Homo sapiens: one gene and its partners. The protein of the gene in region 2 purifies or fractionates together with the protein of the main gene of each other region. This does not show direct contact. Each region holds a gene or a part of one and is shown on either strand. Other genes may lie near its edges.

Region 1 (5,096 bases), on a different chromosome or scaffold from region 2:
TTGCCTATGAGTTACAGACAGCCTTGCCTGTCCAACACATCTGTGAGCTGCTAATTATTAGGTTGTCATTCTGGGGCCTCCCTGGCTATGATGTCAGCCATGAATTATCTTCCATGGTAATTTGCACTTGTGGAGTTGGCTAATGTTAAGGATTCAGGAGTTCCCCTGCTGAAGCACACAGACATTCCTAAACCTCACAGTGGAACAAGGGATGCATTTCTAATAATCTTGTTACTCTTTGGATTAGTACTTTTCAAACTGGAGTTTGCAGACTCCTGCATTTTGAAAGCTTTTAATGAAATGTCATTCTCCCACCCTCCTTCCCTTGTTTAGTGTTAGTTCTTAGAAATCAGTGTAAGAACGTCTGGATCTACTGGAGGACTCCCTAGTCACAGAGTACCAGACATGACTTCAGGGCAGCATGTCTGTATTTGCAGTCATCTTCATGCCAGTGATAGCCATAAAACCTCAAAGCTTCCTCAAATGTGGCTAACAGAGCCAGTTGGAGGAACCAGTTGCCTTGCTGCACACAGAGAACCTGGGTTGCACAGTGAGAGCCATGCTTGACTACTGATAACAAAAGGCTATCGTTTGTTACCACTATGTGCAGTAATAAGCACCCAGGGAAGAATGTACACAATCCCAGTGCCAGCAACATTTAGATGAGGCCCTCATGATTAACACAGAGCTCAATAATGCTCTAATGCTGGCATTATTTATATATTTATATATTTTTTGAGGCAGAGTCTTGCTCTTGTTGCCCAGGCTGGAGTGCAGTGGTATGGTCTCGGCTCATTGCAGCCTCCGCCTGGCAGGTTCAAGACATTCTCCTGCCTCAGCCTTCCAAGTACCTGGCATGTGCCTCCACGCCTGAATAATTTTTGTATTTTTAGTAGAGACAGGGTTTCGCCATTTTGCCTGGGCTGGTCTCAAACTCCTGGCATCAAGTGATCTGCCTGCTGCAGCCTCCCAAAGTACTGAGATTACAAGCGTGAGCCACTGTGCCTGGCCTGCTGGCATTAAAGAGAACATGACAAAGTTATCAACTGCCATATTAAAATAGGCATTCAAGGACTACTTGCTGACAGTTTTAAGTTTGAACACTGATTATCCCAAGTTTCCAACGAACGTCTTGGAGTTGCTAATACTCTTTTGTGTATCATGCTTACGTGCTTAGGCATTTTCTGCATTGGTATTGTGGAAGTTGAGATGTACAAATATATAAAACAATATCTGAAGCCTCCTCACAGTTTGCAACCAAGTTCAAGCAAAACAATATCCACAACCTTAAACTAATACAACATAAAGTGAATGTAATGAGGATATTGATTTGAATTTTTATTTACTTCTTAGGGGTTTTGTATTTAATGAATAAATATGTTTTGGTTTTACTGACTCTTGAGCTTTAGTAAATTAAGGTGTTTAACCTTTGCATGTTAATATGTATATTAAGTAATATAATAAAAATTGTTAATAAATATCCATTTTATTTATTTTGTTCCTTAGGGACAAATTTAGTGTTTGAAGATGAAATCACTGCATTACAACCTGAAGTAGATAAGTTAAAAACTCTAAATGTGAACAAAATTATTGCACTGGGACATTCGGGTTTTGAAATGGATAAACTCATCGCTCAGAAAGTGAGGGGTGTGGACGTCGTGGTGGGAGGACACTCCAACACATTTCTTTACACAGGTAATTGTTTCAAAAGGATTGCATGGGCCAGGATGTCCAGATAAGCACTGTGTCTCTTTTGCCTTTGTAACTGTTATTACTCTTTTTACTGCTATTTAATATGTAATGTATATTATATGATCTATAATATATATGTAATATACATTAAATGGGAACATGTGCAAATCTTACAAACATTACTAAGAATTTATTGATTTCATGATTATAAGTCAATTCCATATATTTATGTATATAATAAATATATAAGACATAAAATATGTATAAAACATATATATACCATACATATGAAAAACAAAAAGACTATTGAGCCCCAACCAAGTCATTTATGATAGATTCTTATCAAAAAGCAACATGTCATATAAAAACTTTAAGCATAAACAAAATAATGTAAATAAGGACCTTTATAACTCAAGGTGGATTTGATTTGTAGGTTGCACAGGTAGCAGAGGCTGGACCTCGAGTGTGAGTCCTAACTCTGCTGCAGACTAGGAATATAAGTATCCTGGAAGCCACATGACCCTGGGTCCTCAGGAGAGCATGCACTCTTCCTACCCACTACCTGACTACCCCCACCACTCTCTTTTTTTCTCTCTCAAATTGGTGTTAAGTAGTTTTCATCAGAATAACTCTTTTATGATTTTTCCACTTTAAACCTATAATGTCCCAAAACTTTTGAATCTGGTTCCACCTTTCCCACTTCCCCCACCTTGCACTGCATAGATCTTTGAAGTATTCCCAAGGAAAGGAAGAAGAGGCTGGTAAACAGTTCTTCTATCAGCATTCGCAAAGAAGGCTTTGGCGTGGGAACAGCCCTCCCCTTGAAGAGGCTCCTGCTTCTACCATCCTTATGTGGGCTGTCAAAGACCATGCTATTTTGATAAAAGCGAAACTCAAAATACCCCAAACAATAAGTAGGAAATACCCAAAAACATTAAAAGGGATTATCACTAAGAAAGTAATTTTTATTTTCTTTCTAGTACTTTGGAGTATTTTCAAATAATGAATGCATGTTACTTTTGCAATCGGAAAGCAAAATATAAATTATAAAAAGGAAAGAAACACAATATTGGGTCAAAAGTCCCCATTCCTAATTCACTTGAATGACTTTGAGCAGGTCACTTAGCACCTCTGAATCTGCTAGCTTAGCTTCAAAATAGGGGATGATCATGCTCAAAGTTCCACGTTACTGTGAAAATTATATGAGATGTAAAAATATGTGAAAGCAGTTTATAAACTATAAATAGCTATATTCTGGTATGCAGCGTCATGGAGGTTGCCTGCTTATAAAAATATGTCAGTCAAAATCATAACTCACAAACTAAAGTTGGCCTTCACTTAAGAAAATACCAGTATGAATGTGTGCTAATTAAATTCCTTCACAGATATTTTACTTCTTGGTAAACACAGGCTAAGGAATAATTTCAAACTGAGTTAAACTGACAGGTTGTGAAATCAATTTATGGGTTATGACCAGTAGTAGGGCTTTTTTTTTTGACAGATAAGACTAAAATAGATTAGGCACTTACATTACTCATAAGAATGATAAATATTGTTCCATGGGAAAAGATGTATATAAGATGTCAAGAACAGCCCCAGGCACATAGCAGACAATCCATAAATGTGATGAGGATGACGACTAGCACTGGACATTGTTAGCATGGATAACATTGCAATCAAAGAGTTTCAACAACTCCATGAGGGTTAAATGAACTAAGAGAGCCAAGACGAGGAAATAATTGGAGCAGGTCACTGGGAAGCACTGGGTAGGGGTGAAGACTCAACAAAGTCCTTCTGACTCTACCACTAATGGTGGGGTCCTTTCAATGCCTGATTACCCTCATCTGTGGAATGAAGGTGATAACAACAGTACCTATTATAAGGGGTCACTGTGATTTAATATGTGTAATGAATGTATAGGTAAATGGCCTTAGCACAGGGCCTAGTATGTTAGCTGTTCTTATTTTAGTTATGTGCTGGCTCACTGGATAAGACCTGTGAAAACCCAAACCTTAGCTTTTCACTGAGGCAGTGTCAGCACCCTTGGACACACAGTGGGAGCTAGATATGTCTCCTCCCCCTTCTTCCTTTAGAATAATGGTTTCAAAAAGTTTAAACTATGACCCGTAGTAAGAAGAACATTTTAGACAGGGAGCCAAAACACACAAACATATATGTGTGTGTGCGTTCACATACGAACATGCAAAAGCACTTGTATGTGCAAACACATACAAGTGAAAGAAAACTTTCACAAAGCACATGGAATGCACCCCAACTTTTCTGTTTTACTGTTTTATTCACTTAATGCCAGCTACCACTCATTGAATTGATTTTCTTGTACTGTAGTTAATCCATGTTTCTAAAAACTCAGCTTTAAATGGGACGTGACCAAAATAATGCATGAACACTCAAAGGAGTTTCATCCCTTCATTCAGATGTGAACATTCCTGTGTTCCCCTTGACTTGTCTTTACACCATCTTAATCAATGCTGTCTTACAGCAACAATTAGTCATTCATAGCCTGTGGTTTGTGTCCATCAGTGAGTGTGCCCTGATAGACCTGAAAAGATTGGGAGACCATGCCCAGCTTCCCATTATTTCTGTAGCCTGTCCTTTGTTCCCATAACAGTACAGTCATGCCTTAGTATCTGTGGGGGATTGGTTCTAGAACTCCCTGTGGATACCAAAATCCATGGATGCTCAAGTCCCTTATATAAATGGTGTAGCATTTGCATATGACCTGTGCACATCCTCGCATATATTTTAAGTCATCTCTAGATTACTTATAATACTTGATACAATGTAAATGATATGTAAATAGTTGTTATACTGTATTGTTTAGGGAGCAAAGACAAGAAAAAATATATGTTCAGTACAGATAAAACCATCCTTTTTTAGAAAATAACTTTTTGTTCATGGCTGGCTGAATCCAACAATGCAAAACCCACAGTTAGAGACAGCCAACTGTATGTGCCTTTGCTAAGTAGATAAATTTAGTTAATGATGAAGGACTGGATGAAAGAAAGATTTGAGGATAAAAATTAGAGTTTGCTTATCTGTAAATCCTGAAGTAAATAATTACAGTCTCTGAGAAAACTGAGATAACTAATACTTAGTCATTTACTTCACATTTCATGATTGCTTACCAAGATTAAACTTGTTCTGATGAAAATCTTCACTTTTCATACTCATCGTTTTGATGAGTGAACTTAACAATTAAAGGTGGCTGGGCACAGCAGCTCATGCCTATAATCCCAGAATTTTGGGAGGCTGAGGCAGAAGAATTGCTTGAGCCCAGGAGTTCGAGACCGGCCTGGGCAAGATAGGGAGACCCCCATATCTACAAAAAAAATTTTTAAAAATTAGCCAAGTGTAGGGGCATATGCCTGTAGTCCCACCTACTC
Region 2 (5,096 bases):
GGTTTCTTAGGCAAAGTCAGGAAGTTTCACTGGCATTCTGAAACTCCTGGGACTAACCATTCCAGGCTTAAGGATGAGGCTTGATATGGGGTGATACAAAGTGCTCTGATGCACTTTCACAATCCTTGAGCCATACATGATGTCTTGTTTCCTGTTGGGTTTCAAAGTCTTCCTGGTAAGCTTTAATAAGAGACCACCTTCCAGTTTGTTCAGTAGATATTAATTAGGCTAAATGATTTTCACCTCATCAAAGTGCAGTGGGGGATAATATTACATTCATGAGCCTTATTTTGGAAAGAATACCTTGCTGAAAACAAATGTAAATTATATCATCCCAGTATCCCTTTGCTCATTAAGTGAAGAATGTGCATAATTCAAGCCTAAAATTTGTAATTAATGTGAAGTACCCAGATCCTGAAACATAAATGAGGACTTCTGGATCAACTTTTCCAGATCGTCAACATGGTCAAAAATGAGATAATCACTATGGTATTCAGGCATGAGCATTGTGTGGTAAACCCAAATCCAGTCTGACTTAATGGCTTTAGGCAAAGAAGTAAGTGCCAATTGTGTTGTATTTCCTAGAAGCTGTTTTTCATTTTATATGTAAGCTTCTCACTGCAAGATTTGGCAAATACAGTATTTGGGTAGGGGACAACATTTAAAAATTAAGAAAAACTGCAAGTTAAAAATACAAAGCCAAATGTGGTCCATGACTTAACACCTTGAATGTTGTTTATATTGTTTGAACAGAAAGCCAGGAATCTCAGGATGAATCAGTCTAGATCGAGATCAGATGGTGGCAGTGAAGAAACCTTACCTCAAGACCATAATCATCATGAAAATGAGAGAAGATGGCAGCAAGAGCGTCTCCACAGAGAAGAGGCCTATTATCAGTTTATTAATGAACTCAATGATGAAGATTATCGGCTTATGAGAGACCATAATCTTTTAGGCACCCCTGGTAAGAGATGGGTAAAAGAGGAAACACCCTTTTTTCATCATTTAGATGGAAGGATTTCAAGATAAGGAGAATTGGTATTCTTTTTCCTTGCTTCTCTTTATGAAAATATAGTATATTGTTTTTGTGAGTTTAAGAACTTTTTAGTATAATAAAGTAGAAAATCACTGGCTTCTGTATTTTATAAGGTGAAAATAGGGGACATGGAGCACTATTATACAAATGCCAAACTAAGAAACAGGTTAATGTACATAATGGTGTTAAGTATTTACATATATGGTCCTATTTGTAATTTTTATACAAATAAAATATGACTTAAAACCCAATTTGAACTCATTTGGGGTATTATAATTTATTTATTCAGCTGAATTAATAGCTCCCCCCAAAGCCCAATGTGTTCCATAAAGTTTTTACAAATGAACTAATGGAAATTTGTATGTTTATATATTGTGTGTTTGTATATTGATGACCCATATAATGAAGTATTTGGGATAAAATTCAAGTAAATATTTGAAGTTTTCTCTATAAATGCTCCCTTAATTTCTTTTTAACTGACAAAAATCCACAGTTATAGCTTATAGATTCCTAAGTGTATCAACTGGCAGCACTTTACCAACTATTCAAATTAAATCTTATTTTAATAATTTTTAATAAAAGATTAATAAATGAAGCACAACCGAATTGATGCACATTTGTACCAGTTGAATATTTTTAACTGTCTTCAATTTACAGAACATATGAAAGTAATAAGACATTTGTCTTCTATAGGTTACTAAAGATTAGTCTTACCCTTCATGAGGTCTCATAAAACTTAATTCAGAATTCTTAAATGAGCAGTTTTTCATTGTTTTAGGAGAAATAACATCAGAAGAACTGCAACAGCGGTTAGATGGCGTCAAGGAACAACTAGCATCTCAGCCTGACTTGAGAGATGGAACGAATTACAGAGGTACTATGGAGTCCTTTCCATAAGGAACAGGCTTGATTGGAGCACTTGCAGAAATGAAATTCTTAGACCTTGTATAGTATGTTTGTCTTCAATTTTTTCCAGTTTTAATGTGATACTCATTCAGATAATATATATATGAGTAGTAAAGCAGTATGGTTAAGCAGTATAGGACAGAGGAATGAATGCAAAGATGTCTTAAACACACAGATTGCCTTCAGAGAGCTTTATGTAATAATATACAATTAAGTTAATTCCCAGCATGCTTCTTTTTAATCTTGGAATGTACACATTACTTTTTCTAAAGTGATATTACTTAGCTTCTAAAAATTTATATACAGAACCGTGTAGAAAGACTGAGTTAGGAAACCTGTTTTTGTTTCTTTGTTCTGTTTGATGGTTTACATATAAAAAGTTCTTATAAGGAAAGTACTATAAAAGAACTTCAAACTAAATGAAGTATGTAGAGTTAAAAGGAAAAGCCACTTTTGTGTTCCTCTTAACCAGTTCTACTTCCCTCCTCAGAGGTATTTATTAGTAGTTTCACATATTATATCAAAATCATTGTATTAGTTACCATGAAGTCTATGTAAAAACCCCAAAATGCAATGGCTCAATAAGCTAGAAGTTTCTTACTTACGTTAACAGTCCAGGGAAGGAAATCCTCTTGGAACCCACTCAGCTAACAGAATGATTCTACAACTGTGCTGTTCAGTACAGTAGCTGCTAGCCACATGTGACTATTTAAATGGAAATTAATTAAAATCAAATTAAATTTAAAATTTAGCTCATTCATACTAGCCACATTCAGGTGCTTAATAGTCACATTTGGCTAGTGGCTTCTGTATTGGACAGCACAAATACAGAACATACTCATTACTTCAGAAAGATTTATGGGGCATCACTGCTCCAGGGTACCATTTGTATGATCAAGGTAAGTCGCAACCATATCTAGGTTCTAGCTGGTAGGAAGGAGGTCCACGCACTAGCGTGAGAGTAGGATGTATCGCTTACTCTCCCATTCCATTCATGAGAACTTAGTCTCATGGTCACACCTAACTGCCAGGCTGTCCACGAGCCAATTTCCGATGCTTTTACAATGGAAGAAGAGTAGGGTAGCTTTGAGTAGGTACTTGGCAAACTCTTTCACATGCACCATCATCACTACACTTAATCAAATGTTAATCAAAGAAGGAAGTAGCATTTAAAATAATTCATGTTCACCTGCCTTTTACTCATTCTTTTTCCAAACAAATGGGAAGTGGACATTAACACATTTTATTATTTGTGTTTAGATATGTAAGTTGTACTATATAGATGCAATAATTAATACTGATCTTTTGAATATGTTTCAGTGGAAAATGTACTCATCAAATATAAAATAGCTCATCATCTCTGGAATATGGCTCAGTTGCTGTTTATTTTATTGGCATCAACAGCTGATTAATAGCTTCAACTTCAGCATTTAAAAAAGTCTTACGAGAGAGATTGCAGGAATGAAATGAAATCAGAATGATGTCATATAATAGCTATTTTATTTATTTGTTTATTTATTTTTTGAGACAGAGTCCTGTTCTGTCACCCAGGCTGTAGTACAGTGGCACAATCTTGGCTCACTGCAACCTCTGCCTCCCGGGTTCAAGCAATTCTCCTGCCTCAGCCTCCTGAGTAGCTGGGATTACAGGCGCACGCCACCATGCCTGGCTAATTTCTTTGTATTTTTAGGAGAGACAGGTTTTTACCATGTCAGTCAGGCTGGTCTCGAACTCCTGACTTCATGATCTGCCTGCCTTGGCCTCCCAAAGTGCTGGGATTACAGGTGTGAGCCACCGCGCCCGGCCTATAATAGCTATTTTTGAGTAGAACAAACTTTAAAGTTGAAGTTTGTGTAGTTAATGTGTTGATGCTTTTTATTAAGTTTTGTACTTTATATAATATCTACTGGTTATAAATGGAAAATTTAAGCTTGGCACAGTGGCAGTATCTTAGTCAAAAAAGTTTATGGGTGACACATTTCTAAATTGATTAATTGAGCAATATTAATTGAAAGTCTGATTTATACTAGATACTGCTGTAGAGGCTGGAGATGTAACAGTGACTAAAACTACAAAAATCTTTGTTTTCCTGGAGCTTACGTTCTAAATGAATAGAAAATGTATTTTATTATGTATAACAGCTAACATTTATGGGGTGGCTTTTTATGTGCCAGATATTATGCTAATTATGTTATATATAGCGTCTTATTTTATCCTCAGGATAACCCTATGAGATTGATTCTATTATTAACTCCAGTTTATAGACAAGGATCAGCCATAGAGACCTTAAGTAACTTGCCTGGTTTCTCAGCTTCACACAAAGACAAATACAGTAATGTGGTTTTAATGTTATATTCAGAAACTCACATTTCTTGATGTGTACATTTTTGGCAGCACCTGAGAAATAGGAAAAATTTCTAAGATTACAGAAATACCTAGTTGCAAAAATGACTGAGTTGGCTTTTCCAGAAAGATTCCACAAATACAGGACAAATTTTACATAAAGTTTGTCTTTGTATTTTATTGATATTACTATATTGATAAAGCAATTTAAATGTAAACTTTTGGTAGTGGACATGTTTCTCATTTGCCTTAGTATTTTGCTAGTAATGGGCAGATAGAAAGTAAGAATGAGGATTTCTCCATAGCGTTGCATAAATAGTATTTAAAGCTTTGTAACTATGTAAATAGTAATTTAATTTTTATAATATGCTTATAGTAGATATACTTTTCTTTTAGAAAGTTGTCTTTTTGCCATCTTTCATTCATTAAAATCCACAGATGTTCTTTAATTTATTACAAACTTTGTTTTTCTTACAAGTTTTCAATAAAGCTGTAAGGTGTGTCTTAGGAATTGATCTTAAGTTGATTTGCTTTGCTTTCTAGACTCAGAAGTCCCTAGAGAAAGTTCACATGAAGATTCTCTTCTAGAATGGTTGAACACCTTTCGGCGCACAGGAAATGCAACTCGAAGTGGACAAAATGGGAACCAAACTTGGAGAGCTGTGAGTCGAACAAACCCGAACAATGGAGAGTTTCGGTTTAGTTTGGAAATCCACGTAAATCATGAAAATAGAGGATTTGAAATTCATGGAGAAGATTATACAGACATTCCACTTTCAGATAGTAACAGAGATCATACTGCAAATAGGCA
Region 3 (5,096 bases), on a different chromosome or scaffold from region 2:
AGAATTTCTCAGAGGGGGCACAAGCATCATGTTTTTTTTTTTGTTTTGTTTTGTTTTTTTTTTGAATAAACCCAGATGATTCCCTTGCACAGCTAAGGCTGAGAGCCACTGCCCTAGGATATTTGTTGGAAGTGTTGTCATTAGGGTTTTAACCAAATCACTGAAAAGTTTTTTAATCAAGTCCTTCAGAAGAGTTGCGGGATAGGTCCATGCTCCTCAAACCTGAATGTGTAAACCCATACCTGGAGGTTGCGTTGTGGTTTCATATTCACTGGGGCTGTGGTAGGGCCTGAGATTCTGCTTTTCTAGCAAGCTCCAAGTGATGCACATGGTGCTTCTGCTGCATCCACCGACTTTAGGTAGAAGGGGATTAGGTAACCTTACTAAAGTGCTCTGAGCAAGTTGGAAGAAACACTGCTTTTGTCATTATTGTTTACCTTGGGAGAATGGATTCCAGGATCTGATGTTTTAAAGAGACTGTAAGTATGTTTTTAGCCAAGCCTGTAAATATTGACCTTCTAAGGTATCTTTAATTATGACCGACTCTTGGTTTGTCCTTGCAGGGCTCAGAAGCAGCTAGTAAAGGAGACTTTCTCTTCAGCAGTGATCACCTGATTGAAATGGCCACCAAGCTCTATCGCACAACTCTCAGCCAAACCAAACAGAAGCTCAATATTGAGATTTCCGATGAGTACGTTCATGTATTGTTTGAAAACCCTTTTTCTCTTTCAGCTTTTTTGTTTTAGTTCAGCTCTCGATCTCATTCATTAATACAACTACTTATTAAGTACCAGGTATGTGTCTAGTAGTTGTTCCACATGATAAATGGGCAGTGAATGACACTGACCAAGTCTCCAACCTCATGTACCTGACATCCTAGTGGAAGAGACCAGTATGTACAAATAAAATGATGAAATAGTTGATAAGATTTTGGCTAACAAGTGTTTATGGAGGAAAAAAAGGGTTAAGAGTCAGAGAGTAGGCCAGGCGCAGTGGCTCACGCCTGTAATCCCAGCACTTTGGGAGGCCGAGGCAGGCGAATCACGAGGTCAGGAGTTCGAGACCAGCCTGGCCAACATGGTGAAACCGTCTCTACTTAAAATACAAAAAAAATTAGCTGGGCGTGGTGGCGGGCGCATGTAATCCCAGCTACTCAAGAGGCTGAGGCAGGAGAATCTCTTGAACCCGGGAGGCGGAGATTGCAATGAGCCGAGATCGTGCCACCGCAATCCAGCCTGGGTGACAGTGTGAGACTCCGTCTCAGAAAAAAAAAAAGAGTCAGGGAGGCCTCTTTGATGTGGTGACATCTGAGACTGGTATAAATTTGAAATTTGCTTCTTCAATTTCTCATTAGGGTTCTGAATATAGAAGTTAGTTATTTGCATACAGGTTGGGGCATCCCCAGATTTATTGTATCTATCTATGTAAGTGTTTTGGAGAAATCTGAGTTACTGTGTTGATTATACTTAATTGGTTACCTTTCAATAGATTGTTTACCTGCTTATATACTTCTTTGCATGTCTAGATTGCTCAGGAAATTATATTCTTTTCTAATTAAGAATTTTCTAGTCTATTCTGTTTCAACTCTTCCTAAAAGTCTTTCTAAAATAAATTTACACCCATTTCTGCCCCTTTGTAAGTCAGACTCTCTTTGATATGTTAGGATTTTGCAGTGCTGTGGGCTTTTCTTAAGTTCTCATTGAAGTGTTTAGATTTGGGTGGGAGGTTGGGCTTCATGTATACTCTATATTGGAAATTGCTGTTCGGACTAAATAACTTTTCTTGTTAATGAGATCTTTCTCATAAAGAAATTAGGAAAAAAATAATGGTTGGTGTGTTTCAGTTAAGGATTTAACACGTTAGGGCCTATTAGAGCTTTAAAATCCCTTTATAATAGTTGAAGTTTTTCATAATCTGGGAGAATGGGCTTTGGTGGGGCTGCTAATTCTCACTCACCATGGGAAGATCGTATGTATCCCAGACAGCAGAAGCTCCTCAGTGTACAGACGAAGCAGTCTCATAGTTGTCCCACTATGTGAATAAACTCATCTTTACACAGAAAGGAAATCACACCAACATCCAGACCACAAAGTACTGCTATTTTTAAGCATTTCCCAAACCGGGATTCTAGGAACATTGCTTGTACAGGATGCTAATAACGATGTACTGTGAAAAAATTGTTCTCTGATGGAAATTTAAAATCTTTCTTCACTACATTACATCTCAGAGTCCCTGAAATCTTGTTGTGATTCTCCTGAGGAGCTTTGCGGGGATAGCGTGTGGCGTGAATCCTAAACATAGTCAACCACAGAGCTCCTTCAGCAGCTCTCACAGCTTGTGTTCGAAGGTGTGCCATCTGGGAAAGGGGGACAGTTCGCTTCTGGGCAGCAAGGGCCCTGCCCTGTCACAGAGGGCGTGTGATGTTCTGGATGCCATAAGCTTTCAGTAAACAGTTGTCTGAGCGAAGATTTATAATGTGGCCACATGAAGAAAACAAACATTGGGTAGCATTATAATGCCTTTCATTCTCCAGTGCCTAATTATTGATTGGTCTCATAAAAATAAAACAGTTCATAGGACTCTACATAGCACCCGTGGGTCCCTTCCCCAGGTGGCACAGGAAGCCTGCAGAGGAAGTTTGTAGGTAAGGATCGTAAATCTCCTTAGGGAGCATTTTGAATTTAAACGAAAATGTCCAAAGTCATAGGCAGGGGCGCCTGTTCCTTTATGTGTCAGCCCTAAGTGGCTTCGCTAGCTCTATAGAACCAGTGTTGAAAACCACATGCAGTTTAGTGACTAAGCCCTTCCTTGCTTTTTCCTTCCCAGAAGTAGAAGTAGTTACTCTAACAAACCTAGATTCTGTAATCATTATGGATAAGTGGATGTCAGTTTATGGAAAGAGAGTCAAAGTCCTGTTTACTCTTTAGTGGATTTTTTTTTTTTTTTTTTTTTTTTGAGGCAGAGTTTCGCTCTTGTTGCCAAGGCTGGAGTGCAGTGGCACGATCTTGGCTCACCGCAACCTCCGCCTCCCGGGTTCAAGGGATTATTCTGCCTCAGCCTCTTGAGTAGCTGGGATTACAGGCATGCACCACCACGCCTGGCTAATTTTGTATTTTTAGTAGAGATGGGGTTTCTCCATGTTGGTCAGGCTGGTCTCGAACTCCTGACCTCAGGTGATCCGCCCCCCTGGGCCTCTGAAAGTGCTGGGATTACAGGCGTGAGCCACCGCGCCCAGCCTGTTCAGTGGAATTTAAACTTGTACATATAGAAGTGAGAATTGAATTCATTCAGAGATTCAGCTGCCTTATAGTTTCTAGTCCTTAAACTTCTAAGCTGTTCAATGTGTAACTAGATTGCATTTTAAGGATAACCTGCAAGATGTGTAATGCAGTTATGCACCACATAATGACATTTTGGTCAGCAATGGATTGCACAGATGACGGTGGTCCCCTAAGATTGTAATGGAGCTGAAAAATTCTTCTGTCTATTGATGTCACAGGTGTTGTAATGTTATAGTGCAAGGCACTACTCACATGTTTGTGCTGCTGCTGGTGTAAACAAACCTACTTCACTGCCAGTTGTCTACAAGTAAAAGCACATACAATTATGTACAATATGTAACTCTTGATAATAAATGATGTTGTTACTGGTTTATGTATTTATTATACTATACTTTTTTTTTTTTGAGACTCAGTCTTGCACTGTTGCCCAGGCTGGAGTGCAGTGGCGTGATCTCGGCTCACTGCAAGCTCCGCCTCCTGGGTTCATGCCATTCTCCTGCCTCAGCCTCCCGAGTAGCTGGGACTACAGCTGCCCGCCACCACGCCCGGCTAATTTTTTGTACTTTTAGTAGAGGTGGGGTTTCATCGTGTTAGCCAGGATGGTCTCGATCTCCTGACCTTGTGATCTGCCCGCCTCAGCCTCCCAAAGTGCTGGGATTATAGGCGTGAGCCACCACGCCCGGCCTATACTGTACTTTTTATCTTTATTTTAGCGTGTATGCCTACATGTTAAAAAAGTTAATAGTAAAACAGCCTCGGGCAGGTCCTTAAGGGGGTATTTCAGAAGGCATTGTTATCTTAGGAGAAGACAGCCCCATGTGTATTATTACCCCTGAAGACTTTCCAGTGGGACAAGACATGGAGATAGAAGACAGTGAAATTGATGCTCCTGACCCTGTGTAGGCCTAGGCTAATATGTTTGTATCTTAGTTTTTAACAAAAAGTTTAAAAAGTAAAAATAAAAAAAATTAAAATTTTAAAAATAGAGAAAAGCTTATAGAATAAGGTTATAAAGAAAATATTTTTGTACAGCTATACAAAGTATTGTGTTTTAAGCTAAGTGTTATTACAAAAGAGCCAAAAAACAGCCGGGCCCAGTGGCTCACGCCTGTAATCTTGGCACTTTGGGAGGCCAAGGCTGGTGGATTGCTTGAGCTTAGGAGTTCAATACCAGCCTGGGCGACATGACGAAACCCCTTCTCAACAAAAAAATTAAAAAATTAGCCAGCCATGGTGACACACACCTGTAGTCCCAGCTTCTCAGGAGGCTGAGGTGGGAGAATCATCTGAGCCCGGGAAGGTCAAGGCTGCCCTGAGCCATGATTGCTCCAGTGAACTCCAGCCTGGGAGACAGACCAAGACCCTGCCTCAAAAACAAAACAAAAGTGTCAAAAATGTTTTTAAAATTGTAAAGTTTATAAAGCAAAAAGTTACAGTAAGCAAAGGTTAATTTATTATTGAAGAAAGAAAAAATTACCTATAAAGTATACCGTAATGTAATGTCCTAGGCCTTCACATTCACTAACAACTCACTCACTGACTCACCCAGAGCTACTTCCAGGCCTGCAAGCCCCATTCATGGTAAGGGCGCTAGACAAGTACACTATTTTTTATCTTTTATGCTATTCTTACTGTACCTTTTCTATTCTTACTAAGTTTACACATACAAATACCATTGTGTTACAGTTACCTACAGTACAATAACACGCTGTAGCATCTAGGTTTGGGTAAATGCACTCACTCTATGATGTTTGCACAATGACAAAATCACCTAGTGATGCATTTCTCAGAATGTATCCCTTTTATTAGATGATG
Region 4 (5,096 bases), on a different chromosome or scaffold from region 2:
ACCTGTGATTCAAACATTAGCTGTCAAATTTGCCTTACCACACTGTAAGTTTCTCACATATGTCTGGCTTTGTCTGGTAATTTTGCGTTGAATTCATTAAGAAACAATATCAAGTCTGTAGCAAAAGCTAATTTCCAAAGCCATTCGTGTTCAGTAATAGTGGCTGGGGGCAGCTCGTTTAGAAAAACTTCAGTCTCAACTGTGAACTCAAAGACTGCAAAACTTTACAGCTAGCAAGCTATCTAATGGCTCTGTCACAAGAGACATCAGGATATCCGGCCTCTATTTCTGATAATTCACAGAAATGATGACGGTTATATCCACAAGAGCAAATGAAGCTCATGGTTTATATTGCCGGTTCAATAACACATGTGAGATTCCAATATTTTCCACAAAATATCTGAAAAGGAATACTATAATAAATAACCATGAGCTTTAAACACCTCGCATGTTCACAAGTTTTGTGAATTTGCTCAACTCCGCCTTTTTCTACTCACAAATATTTTTACTACTGTCAATTTTTATAGATCTTAGCAGATTCCATTCCAGGTTATACTCAATCATTATTTTCTCAGCTTCTTCGAAAACATCCTCGCCTGTAGTTGTTTTATACAGATGATTCAGAGGCTAACTCTTCAGTCACTTCAAACTTGGCAATGATCATCTAATAAATATCAACAACTGATCAGTTATCGGTATGTTGACAGTCAAGAAAAATCACTCAAAAATCACATGCTTTGTTCTTTAATTGATATTGATGTTCTTCCCAAAGTCCAGGACAAGGGTTCTCAATGACATGTAAAATAATTTCATTTTCCCTGGACACAATACTTCTGCTACTACAATCGAATACAATTTAGGTAATCCACCATTGGTAAATGGCTTTCCTTATTTTGCTAATAAATGAGCTACTTAGAGACTTATAGGGGTTGCAACTTAATTTTACTTTGTAAAATTTGTAAATAAGTTCTGCTGTGAGGAGATACTCCGCTTTACATTTTCTTGTTTATCTGACCATTGTTTTCCTATGAGTTGGGAATACTGTGATGGGTACTTAACCCAAGTGCTTAATTTTATGATCATGTTGTGGACTTAAGACCCTGCTCCATTAGTGACTTGTAGAAAGTTACACAGCTGGTGACAGAATCAGAGTCAATGGCTTTCCCTGTTCTATCAAACAGCTTCCCACAGAGATAATAAAACCAATGCCTCAATTTAATTCCTAACAGAATAATCTGCGCGTAGTTCAGGGCTTCTGGTGATCACTAGAATCAACTCGGCAAATTAAGTGAAACGTAATGACTCCTATCCCTTCCTAATAATGACATTTGCACGCCCTGGGTTCCAAAGCCAAAATAAACATCAAATTACAGGCACATTTCTTACTAGACAACTGTGAGCAAAGTTGAAAATGCTCTGTCTAGTATTAGGAGAGAATGTGACCTGCCCCAGAGGTAAGAACTAAAGAGCAAGCTAGCAACAATACATGTGGAGTGAGTCTGAGGTTGATAACGACTCTTGGTAGCAATAAACAAACGTGAAATTGGCATAGAACCTGGCTGCAAGGAAATAGGATAAGTGTGACAGAAAATAAGAAAGTTGGCAGCTATGAGACTACAGTATTTCAGGGGCTCACATGGCATGAACGCCTAAGTCGTTTATGCAAAAAGGTTAGTTTTAGGGGTAGGGTGGAAAAAAGAGCTACTTCCTCCCCCTCAAAAAAGAATTCTACAGGGAGACACAGCTTCAAAACCCACGAGTAGCCCTAAAACAGAATTATAATGAACTTACTTAATGTTATTTAAAGTTCCTTACTATCCCCAAGTTTATAAACAGTTTAATAACAGACAACTCTATTAAGGCAGGTAAAAACTTAAATAGATGATAGGTAAAGATTAGAAACAGATGATAAGAAGAGAGATTATGTGGTCTGGATGGTATACTATGTACACCCTATCACAGGAAACAAAATCCAACTTAGAATCAATTCTCTCTAACCCTCTCCCCACAGTACCTCTCTTTCTCTCTCTCTCCCTGCCCTTCCCTACCTTTCTCCCTGCCCCTCAGTGGTCTCCTAAGAGTGAAGATAAGTGGTAAAAATCTGATATTTCAATGCATTTGAAACTCTCTGGGCCAGGCATGGTGGCTCATGCCTGTAATTCCAGCACCTTGGGAGGCTGAGGTGGGTGGATCACCTGAGGTCAGGACTTCAAGACCAGCCTGGCCAACATGGCGAAATCCCCGTTACTACTAACAATGCAAAAATTAGCTGGGTGGCATGTGCCTGTAATCCTAGGTACTCGGAAGGCTGAGGTAGGAGAATTGCCTGAAGCCGGGAGGTGGAAGTTGCAGTGAGACGAGATAGTGTGACTGCACTCCAGCCTGGGAGACAGAGCAAGACTCCATCTCAGAAAAAAAAAAAAAACAAAAAACTCTCTGGAAAGTGCTTTTAAAAGACTGTTTGGGTCAGAAAATTCTCTAATTTTTCTGGTTATTTGATAGAAACTTAAGCCTCTTTGAATGTCCTCCCCATTCATTAAGAGAAATTAATTACAGAGCTACTGAACACAACATTCTAAAAAAAACACAAAAATATAAAGAGAACATTAAGGTCTCAATGAAAGCGCCATACCCTTAAAAAATGGCATAACTTGTACAGCTCCTTAAAATATTTGAGCCCGAAAGAATTAGGAGACCCTCAATGAAATAATGTATGCTTCTAATAGTGAATTTTAAAAGTCCAGAAAGCCCTTGTGTGCTTGTCTTATTGAAATACTCAGAAAGAGACAATGAAGGATAATCTAAAATTACATACCTCATGTCAGTTTTCATACCCACCAGAAGCCAAACAACTCTAGCCAGACAATTTTTCATTCATTCAATTCTTGAATTCATCAACAACTATTTTGCAGACAAGTTTTTCCTATAATGTCCTCTTATGTACAACTCAGCAGAAACACTGAATACAAAGAGGCATGTTTCCTACGTGTACAAGAATTCACATGAGCTTGAAAATGTTTTCACTTGTCTTCTGGGCTTTGATGGGATGGCATCCTATTAAGCTACTGATATTTAGGTCAAAGGAATGTGAATAAACCCTCCATGAGAGGAAGGACCTCATCTATCTCATTGGCTGACGCATTCCCAGCGTTTAGGAGTCTGGCACATAGTAGGCAAGCAGTATTTGTTGAATAAGTGAATGGATTACACCTGTGTGTTCCCTCTTTGGGAGAAGTAGGGAAAAGCAGATGAAGTGCAATAAATTCCTAGGCCAGATGGGGTCTATGAGATTTCTGGCAACTGCGTGAAAATCATTGCTAAAGCTGATTCAATAGCTAATGTCAACAATGTTGACATACGCTGTTAACTAGTATGAGAAGCTGATGCATAAAAATGAGTTTACAAGTTTACTTTGGCAATTAATTACTAAGCCATTACGTTTCATCTTCGCACATCTTATGAAGTGGGTCAGATTTATTACGCAGAGCAGCCATCTCTCCCCTCTAGTTCCTTTCCTGCCAATCACACTTAGCCTACCGCAAGCTGTTTTCTGCCCCCAACACTGCTCCAGTCGAGGTGACCAATGACCTCCAGTTGCCCAACATCATAATACCACTGACATCTCAATAATATTCAACATAGTTAACCTGTCCCAGTCTCTTCCCTGAGCTTCCTGTTCCACTTACTCTCCTATTTTTTTGTTTTTGTTTTCTGTGACGAAGTTTCGCTCATTGTCCAGGCTGGAGTGCAATGGCAGGATCTTGGCTCACTGCAACCTCTCCCTCCCAGGTTCAAGCAATTCTCCCGCCTCAGCCTCCTGAGTAGCTGGGACTACAGGCGTGAGCCACTATGCCCAGCTAATTTTTGTATTTTTAGTAGAGACAGGGTTTCTCCATGTTGGCCAGGCTAGTCTCAAACTCCTGACCTCACGTGATCTGCCCACCTTGGCCTCCCAAAGTGCTGGGATTACAGGCATGAGCCACCGCGCCCGGCCTGTCCTGTTTTAACTTTGGCAATTTCTCCTCTTCTTGACACATACATGTGCAAGTTACTTAGCCTTTGCCTAGTTCTCTTTTCTTCTCTTTCTCTATCCTATTTCTAGGTAAGTTCATCTGCTCCAAGGGCTTCAAATATAATATCATTATGCCAGTGACTCTCAGTGTCTCTCTTCTGAGTGCCAGTCCGAGTGGCCTGCTGGATGCCTCTCTGCCACCTGAAATTTAACATACACCCCAAATGAAAACGATCCTCATTCTTTAGCCCCCAAGCTTTCCCCTCCCCATGTTTCCTGGAACGGATGCCACCATTCGCCCAGCGAAGCACTTCAGCAATGTGCAGGTCACGCTGACACCTCACTCCCTCATCCTCACCCAACGATTCCTTCAGCTCATTCGCCCTCCTGATTTTTTTCTAGAACATCTACTTCTCTCCCTCACCCCTGGCGCCACCATCCTTCAACGCACCCTGTTTTCTTTTCTGGACTAGTCTCCTCATATCTACCCTTGCTGACCTCCAATCCAGACTCATCTTTTTAAAGTGAAAATGTTATCTTGTCTAAAACCATCTAATGGCCTCCCATTGGCTGGTTCCAGATCCTCCCATTTTTTAGGATAAATTTCTGAATCCTTAATAAGAGTCTACAGAACCCTGGATGATGTCATCTGGCGCTATCTCTCCAGACATTTCTTGTGCCACTGTCTTCACCATCATCTCTTAATAGACTCCTAAAAAATTCAATAATGAAGAATAACTCAGGAGGACCTTCACATAGGAATATTGTGAAAAGCCTCAAAAACAAACACACAAAAAATCCTTACAGATGTTCTAAATCAAATGACTTGTTTCCAATTTAAAGCTGCTTCTCATTATTCATATTTATTGAAAGTACTTTTGAAATATCTTTTGTTACCATGAGGCTATAGTTTATCATATAATGACTCCAGTTGAAAAACTGCTTATTCTTCTCAGAGAATGAAGTCACTAAACTTCTGTAAGGTTCTAAAGGTCCTTCAGTGCATGGATCCCAGGATTTTCCAGGCCAGTAAAAAAAAATTAATGAGGCCTTGGCACAGGAGGGTCCAAATTTTTATTCTGCC

What was found. Proteins that work in one complex are often made in the same cells at the same time.
Region 1: the proteins of RNF6 (region 2) and NT5E purify together in Homo sapiens (affinity purification with mass spectrometry, with the first as the bait; 2 studies listed by BioGRID). This does not show direct contact.
Region 3: the proteins of RNF6 (region 2) and MYO1B purify together in Homo sapiens (affinity purification with mass spectrometry, with the first as the bait; one large-scale study listed by BioGRID). This does not show direct contact.
Region 4: the proteins of RNF6 (region 2) and ASAH1 purify together in Homo sapiens (affinity purification with mass spectrometry; one large-scale study listed by BioGRID and IntAct). This does not show direct contact.

What each region holds. Positions count from the first base shown.
Region 1 is NC_000006.12:85,469,731-85,474,826, forward strand, and holds part of NT5E (5'-nucleotidase isoform 1 preproprotein), read left to right. Parts: intron 1-1,506; coding exon 1,507-1,695; intron 1,696-5,096. UniProt on the Homo sapiens protein: Catalyzes the hydrolysis of nucleotide monophosphates, releasing inorganic phosphate and the corresponding nucleoside, with AMP being the preferred substrate. Shows a preference for ribonucleotide monophosphates over their equivalent deoxyribose forms.
Region 2 is NC_000013.11:26,215,325-26,220,420, reverse strand, and holds part of RNF6 (E3 ubiquitin-protein ligase RNF6), read left to right. Parts: intron 1-753; 5' UTR 754-771; coding exon 772-964; intron 965-1,814; coding exon 1,815-1,910; intron 1,911-4,828; coding exon 4,829-5,096. UniProt on the Homo sapiens protein: E3 ubiquitin-protein ligase mediating 'Lys-48'-linked polyubiquitination of LIMK1 and its subsequent targeting to the proteasome for degradation. Negatively regulates axonal outgrowth through regulation of the LIMK1 turnover.
Region 3 is NC_000002.12:191,415,552-191,420,647, forward strand, and holds part of MYO1B (unconventional myosin-Ib), read left to right. Parts: intron 1-563; coding exon 564-691; intron 692-5,096. UniProt on the Homo sapiens protein: Motor protein that may participate in process critical to neuronal development and function such as cell migration, neurite outgrowth and vesicular transport.
Region 4 is NC_000008.11:18,076,864-18,081,959, forward strand, and holds part of ASAH1 (acid ceramidase isoform a preproprotein), read right to left. Parts: intron 1-5,096. UniProt on the Homo sapiens protein: Lysosomal ceramidase that hydrolyzes sphingolipid ceramides into sphingosine and free fatty acids at acidic pH.